2 linked regions of the Homo sapiens genome follow. The protein of the gene in region 1 interacts with the protein of each later gene in a pairwise test. Each region holds a gene or a part of one and is shown on either strand. Other genes may lie near its edges.

What was found.
Region 2: the proteins of PLEKHB2 (region 1) and ATF7IP interact in a two-hybrid assay, tested with the Homo sapiens proteins (one large-scale study listed by IntAct).

What each region holds. Positions count from the first base shown.
Region 1 is NC_000002.12:131,108,319-131,112,139, reverse strand, and holds part of PLEKHB2 (pleckstrin homology domain-containing family B member 2), read right to left. Parts: intron 1-3,821. UniProt on the Homo sapiens protein: Involved in retrograde transport of recycling endosomes.
Region 2 is NC_000012.12:14,424,631-14,428,451, reverse strand, and holds part of ATF7IP (activating transcription factor 7-interacting protein 1), read right to left. Parts: coding exon 2,979-3,821; intron 1-2,978. UniProt on the Homo sapiens protein: Recruiter that couples transcriptional factors to general transcription apparatus and thereby modulates transcription regulation and chromatin formation. Can both act as an activator or a repressor depending on the context.

The sequences.
Region 1 (3,821 bases):
TCCTGGAAGGTTGGGGGGCAGACATGAAAGTTCCAACCCTCTAAAGTCGCATAGGTGTTTCAGATGACCAGCTCCCATCCTGAAGGGAGTCTGCAGGCCATCAATCAATCATTAGCATACAAAAAGACATCATTTTGGAGATTTTTAAGGATTGTATTAAATAGGAGTTGTAAGGCAGGAAATGAGGTCAAAGACAAAATAAACATTTCACAGTACCACAATCAGACACTGGAGAAAAATCTAGACCATAAAAGATAGAGATTAAAGAAAATAAAATTTTCAAGAAAAAAACCTCAAGAATCAGAGACAATGCTGGGTACAAAAGAAAACTTTAAAAATATTACTTTACAGCTGGCCACAGTGGCTCACGCCTATAATCCCAACACTTTAGGAGGCCGAGGAGAGTAGATCACTTGAGGTCAGGAGTTCGAGACCAGCCTGGCCAACATGGTGAAACCCCGTCTCTACTAAAAATACAAAAATTAGTTGGGCGTGGTGGCAGGCTCCTGTAGTCCCAGCTACTCAGGAGGCTGAGGCAGGAGAATGGCGTGAACCCGGGAGGCGGAGCTTGCAGTGAGCCGAGATAGTGCCACTGCACTCCAGCCTGGGTGACTGGAGTGAGACTCCATCTCAAAAAAAAAAAAAACAAGAATAAAAAGAAATATTCAGAGCTCTCAATTAAAAATAATAACCAAAATTAAAAATTCAATACAAGAGTTGGAAAGATCAAGATGGAAGAAATCTCTCTGAAATGAAGAGCTAAAAAAAAAAAAAAAAAAGACCAAGAGATGGAAAAAAATTAGAGGATGAGCCTGGAATATAAAATATTCTGCTGGCTGGGCACAGTGGCTCATACCTGTTAATCACAGCACTTTGGGAGGCTGAGGTGGGTAGATCACTTGGGGTCAGGAGTTCAAGACGAGCCTGGCCAGTATGGTGAAACCCCATCTCTACTAAAAATACAAAAATTAGCCAGGCATGGTGGCACGCACTTGTAGTCCCAGCTACTGAGCAGGCTGAGGCAGGAGAATCACTTGAACCCGGGAGACGGAGGTTGCAGTGAGCTGAGATCCCACCACTGCATTCCAGCCTGGGCATCACAGCGAGACTCCGTCTCAAAAAAAAAAATTCTGCTTATAGGAGAATTTCATAAATAAACCACAGAGAAAAGAGCAGAGAAATAATACTATAAAACCATTTCCTGCAACAGGATAACACATTTCTAGATTCAAAAGATCCAATGACTGTCCAGCATGATGAATTTTAAAAGATTCTCCATAGGTAGGATGACTGAAATTTCATAACATCAAGGACAAAGAAGAGAACCTAAAAACTTCCCAAAGAAAAAAGCATATATAAAGGATCAACAATCAGCAAGACACAGGACATCTAGAGCAATACCTTCAAAATGCTAACGGAAAATTATTTCCAAGCCAGAATTCCACACCCAGTCAAATCATTAATCAAGGCCAGGCATGGTGGCTCTTGAGCATAATCCCAACACTTTGGGAAGCCAAGGTGGGAGAATCGCTTCAGCCCAGGAGTTTGAGACCAACCCAGCAACACAGTGAGACATTCTCAACAAAAAAATAAGAAGTTAGCTGCACATAGTGGTGCACGCCTGTAGTCCCACCTACTCGGGAGACTGAGGTAGGAAGATCGCTTGAGCCCAGAAGGTAGAAGCACAGTAAGCCATGAATGATCATGTCACTGCACTCCAGCCTGGGCGACAGAGTAGGATTCGGTCTTCAACTGGCAGGGGAGGAAATTCCCAGAAAGGCAGCTGTGCAGAAGGACTGGGGAGGAAAAAAAAAAAAAAAAACAGTCCAGACTGGAGCAGGACCGAGTACTACAGGGGAGGAAAAAAAGTAACTGACAAATTTCCTACAAGTTTTTGACTCACTGGTGGATTGAAGAGTTTTACAAGGCAGCAAAAGTCTTCTATGATCAAAAGTCAAAAGATTACATGTAAATCAATAGCAATTTTACCATATCCACAAAGATAAAATACTATTTTTTTTTTTTGAGACGGAGTCTCACTCTGTCACCCAGGCTGGAGGGCAGTGGCGCGATCTCAGCTCTCTGCAACCTCCACCTCCCAGGTTCATGCCATTCTCCTGCCTCAGCCTCCCGAATAGCTGGGACTACAGGCAACCGCCACCACACCCAGGTAATTTTTTTGTATTTTTAGTAGAGACAGGGTTTCACCGTGTCAGCCAGGATGGTCTCGATCTCCTGACCTCATGATCCACTTGCCTTGGCATCCCAAAGTGCTGGAATTACAGGTGTGAGCCACCACACCCAGCCAAAATACTATTTTAAAAAGTGCCAAAAAAAGGTGAAAATAGTTGTCTATAGTTTAAAAAGGGGGTGGACAAGAGATTGATATATTTTTTTTTATTCTAAGGTTTAAAGCACTATTTGGTTGTTTTTTTTGTTTGTTTGTTTTGAGACAGAGTTTCGCTCTTGTTGCCCAGGCTGGAGTATAGTGGCGCGATCTTGGCTCACTGCACCCATCGCCTTCCAGGTTCAAGCGATTCTCCTGCCTCAGCCTCCCAAGTAGCTGGGATTACAGGCGCCCACCACCACGCACAGCTGATTTTTGTACTTTTAGTACAGACGGGATTTTACCACGTTGGTCAGGCTGGTCTCAAACTCCTGACCTCAGGGGATCCACCCGCCTCAGCCTCCAAAAGTGCTGGCCTCCAAAAGCTTGAGCCACCACGCTCAGCCTATTTGGTCTTTCAATCTATGTACATGTATTATTTTGATAAATGTAAACATGTAAACAATAACCTGAATTATCTTCAACTATACCAAAACAAAAAAACCAACCTAAATTAATCTACCTATTTGAACCTTCCAACAGTGCTCTGCTTTCGTTTTTAAATTGGGGAGAGAAATTTAGAGAGTATCTTTAGAAACCAAAAATCATGAAGTATGATTTTGATCACATTTTGTTTTGTTTTTGTAGAGACGAGGTTTCACTATGTTGCCCAAGCTGGTCTCGAACTCCTGGGCTCAAGGGATTCTTCCATCTCAGCCTCCCAAAGTTCTGGGATTACAGGTATGAGCCACTGCAGTCAGCCTATCATATGCTTTTGAAATTTCACAGAACCCAGTGTTTGGGTATAAGCTTTAGAGTTAAAAGACCTATGTTCAGATCCTGACTCAATCGGACAAGTCACGTTTCCAAGCCTGATCTATAAAACGAAAATTCCCACCACCTACTTGACAGGATGTTCGGAAAATTGGGTGAAATAATATGTAAGTAGTTGGCATGGTGCCTCACAGTTACTAGAACTCGATAAATGGTAGCTGCTTTGACAGCAATTATTACTATTTACTACTATTATTACTATTACTTATTTTCCCCCTTACCAAAATTTGCCGAAAATATTCTAGAACAAGCTTGTCCAACTCATGGCCCCAGCCCAGGTCAGCTTTGAATGCAGCCCAACACAAATTTGTAAACTTTCTTAAAACGTTATGAGATTTTTTTGCAATTTTATTTTTTAGTGCATCAGCTATCATTAGGGTTAGTGTATTTTATGTATGGCCTTCTTCCAATGTGGCCCAAGAAAGTCTAAAGATTGGACAGCCCTGTTCTAAGAACAAGGACATCAAGCTGCTTCTCAAATGGCTCAGAAGACTTCTGTTTGATTGCCTTAGCATGCTGAATTTCACACCACTCCATAACTTAATTCAACATTTCACTATTTATATCCTGGAGCAAAACTGAATGCATAAACTAAAACTCATCAGATAAACACTAAGCCCTAGCTGTTGGTCTCTAGAGAATAAAACACCAGCAAACTAGC
Region 2 (3,821 bases), on another chromosome or scaffold:
AATACACAAAATTACCTTCAGAGGAAGGGGAAAAGATACAAAATAAAAGTTTAGTTATGAGCCAAGAAATTAAATCTATCACTAAATTTACCCTGCTAATAGCATACCATCAGATTAAAGGCAAGTAACCAAAAATATTCCCAACTTTGAATTTTCAAAGTATGCAACATGGATGGCTTAATATTCATCTCTCAGCACTTAACTGCCTTGTGTGGGATGCCCTCCAATATCAAGATTCTGACATAAAGGTACTCATTAAATCATAAGCTGCAATTTGCTTTTTTAACTTTCTTATACAGACTTTTTTTTTTTAAAGGACTTATAAGGCTTTTTTATGGACTTGGCCTAGTGCCACACTCTGTATAGACACTTATAGGAAATGGATGAAATTCATTCTCAACACTGTCACCTATTACCTTTCCAAAATGTAAATTTCATTCTCCTCTCTGCTTGAAGTTCTTTATTGGCATTCCAGCGCCATCATAAAGCTTTAGCATTATAACCAAGGTCCTCCATGATATGCTTCTCTTACATTATTGATTATTCATTCACTTTACAAATATTTACTGGGCACTTACTGTGTGCCAGGCACCGTTTTGGCCTGATGATGGTGACTCGCAGCAGGAGTAATAACAGTTGTGAATTGGACTCTAGATCTATTATGATAGTAGTACCAACAGAATTTCCTGATGGACTAATTATGGGGTGTGAAAGAAAAAATAAAAATGGTTCCAAAGTTTCTGGCCTCAGCAAGTAGGATGGAGCTGCCATTAAAAGGAATTAGACTTGGCCAGACGCGGTGGCTCACGCTTGTAATCCCAGCACTTTGGGAGGCTGAGGCAGGAGGATCACGAGGTCAGGAGTTTGAGACCAGCCTGACCAACATGATGAAACCCCGACTCTACTAAAAATACAAAAATTAGCCAGGCGTGGTGTCGCGCACCTATAATCCCAGCTACGCAGGAGGCGGAGTGGGGAGGAGAATCACTTGAACCCGGGAGGCGGAGGTTGCAGTGAGCCAAGATCGTGCCACTGCACTCCAGCCGGGGCAACAGAGCGAGACTCCATCTCGGAAAAAAAAAAAAAGAATTAGACTCATTAAAACCCTATGTTACAGCAGAGCCAATATAGCAAGACCCTGTCTCTACAAAAAAATTAAAATTTTGCCAAGTGTGGTGGCACATGTCTGTATTCCCAGGTACTCTGGGGGCTTAGGTGGGAGGATCACCTAAGCCAGTAAAGTGGAAGCTGCAGTGAGCTATGATTGTGCCACTGTACTCCAGCCTGGGCAACAGAGCAAGACTCTGTCTCACAAAACAAAAACAAGCAAACAAAAAAAACCTCTGTTATACAGATATTAAAAGGGGCAAGACATCCCTAATACATCTGGTGCTCTAATAAAGTTACCTTAATCTGCACTCCCAGAATGCCAATTTAACATTATCACTGTACTCACAGTCTTGTATTTAATGGCCTATGATTTAATTCTTGTGTGTATCCTGAGGGCAAATACTATCTTCAAATCTCTAGAACCAAGAAGGGCCTGGCCTGTCTCTTTATATAGGTTTAGTTGAATGCTCTTTGAAAATAAAAAGCCATCCTTTTTTTTTTTTTTTTTTTTTTTTTTTGAGGCAGGGTCTTACTTTGTCACCCAGGCTGGAGTAGTGGCGCGATCTCGGCTCACTGCAGCCTCGACCACCCAGGTTCAAGTGATCCCCCTACCTCAGGCCCTCAAGTACCCTGGACTACAGACAAGTGCCACCACGCCTGGCTAATTTTTGTACTTTTGTAGAGACGGGGTCTCACCATGTTGCCCAGGCTGGTCTCGAACTCCTGAGCTCAAGCAATCTGCCTGCCTCAGCCTCCCAAAGTCCTAGGATTATAGGTGTGAGCCACCTTACCTGGCCAAAAAAAAAAAAAAAGCCATTTTTTAATAAGAAAAAAATCTCTACCTCCAAAAGCTGGTATGATATATTGGGGAAAAAAGTTGTCTCTGTCTCTTAGACCTGCCTCCATTTTTTTTTCTTTGAAGAAATTAGATGGTGTTTTATGCTAGCAAGGTCACTTCTCTCAGAGATGTCTAAATCTAAAAGAATGTGATATAATGGGAAAAGAAAGGTATTCATGCTTTTCTCAGTCTTCCACAGGCTTAGAAAGTTTCATAGAGGAATAATGTTTTTCAGTTTGACCATAAAAGAAGGTAGAATTTTTCTCATTCTTTTTCTCTAGGAATAATAAATAAAATAAAAGAGATGGGAGAGATAGGTACTGAACAAATCATAAAGTTAATGTACCTTTTACATAAGGAGTTTGAAATCAACCTAAAAGTAACAGAGATCTAAGACATAGACGGACAATATCAAATAAGAGAATTGGGTTACAGGGAGCTCATTCAGAAAATGAGGAAGAGAATAGGTTGGGTAGAATCAAAAGGGCTGAGGGAGCAAATGGGTAAAGTCTTTATCAAATGGATAATCAAGCTTTAAGGTTTCTGGCTTACAACAATGGTGCTGTCATTCCTGGACAAAGAATATTAAAGAACAGGATTTCATTGGGAATATTAATTGAAAATATAATTTGTTACACTTGAAGCAAATAGATTAAACTATTAGGCTTTTAGTTCTAAGTTATTTGTTCGCTAAGTGATAGCAAGAAAGAACTGCTACAACTCTAGTCAATTATGTACTAACTTAAACTGTTATCTCAGTGTTATGGTGCTCTACTTCATCTCTATTTCCAGACTATAAGGGCATATTTTCTACTTATTTTATCTCCCTTCTTAGTATTTAGTACAATGCTACTCACAGAGTACACACACTAATTCTGAATTCTATGAAGTTAAGACATCTTTCTATAGAGTCATCACCATTCTCAACTTTCTCTGCAGCTAAAATAAATTTAAAACATTATGATAATGTTTTATTAAACAGTTCATCAAAGTCAATAAAAAATCTTTAACATTTAAGTTATATGCTAACCTGGAGAGCACGTTTCATTTTGCGATATAACTTCAGACTCATCTTTTTCACCCGAAATATCCTCTTCATCAGAGAGGACCAGAAAGGCTTCTTTTGGCAAACTCTCACTACTTTCTTGTTTAGATGGTGAACCAAAAGAACTTTCCATTTTCTCTTCCAAATCTGGATTTGTCTCATCGATTGGAAGGAGAGATGTTTTAGAAAAGCAAGTAAGTTCATCCTCAGAAGGTGCAAGCTTTTCCAAAATAGGAATGATTTCATCTGTCTCCATAGAGTCTGTATTTTCTAAGATATTCTCACTTTTGTTATCTTCAATAACATTTTCATTAATCGTTTCTACAAGATCTGCAGAAGTTTCATCTTCATTCTTTTCACCTTGGTCAATTTCCATACTGCTAGATATAGCATCTTCTCCAAGAGCAAGCTCTGTGATAATATCTTCCTCTACCTTCTTTTCATTTTCAGGAGGTCGATCTGAACAAATAGTTGTATCATCTGTTTCTAGAGTTTCTTCATTAGCATCAATATTATTATCAGCTTTATTTTTCTCATCCAATGAGTCTTTACTCTGAATTTGCTCTAATTTTTCATCAGCTCCATTTTTTTCAAGAAAATCATCATCTTTATTGCTACTTGGTTCTATATTGTCAATTTCAGGAACTGGTTCACAAACTGGTACAGACTTTGGTTCAAAGGTACGATCAAAGGTTGATTCAGAAGTCAGCTCATCAGAGGCCAGTTCACCAGTGGCCAGATCATCAGAGGCCAGTTCACTAGAGGATAGATCACCAGAGGCCAGATCATCAGAGGCTGGATCAGTGGAAGCTGGTGCTCCAGAAGCCA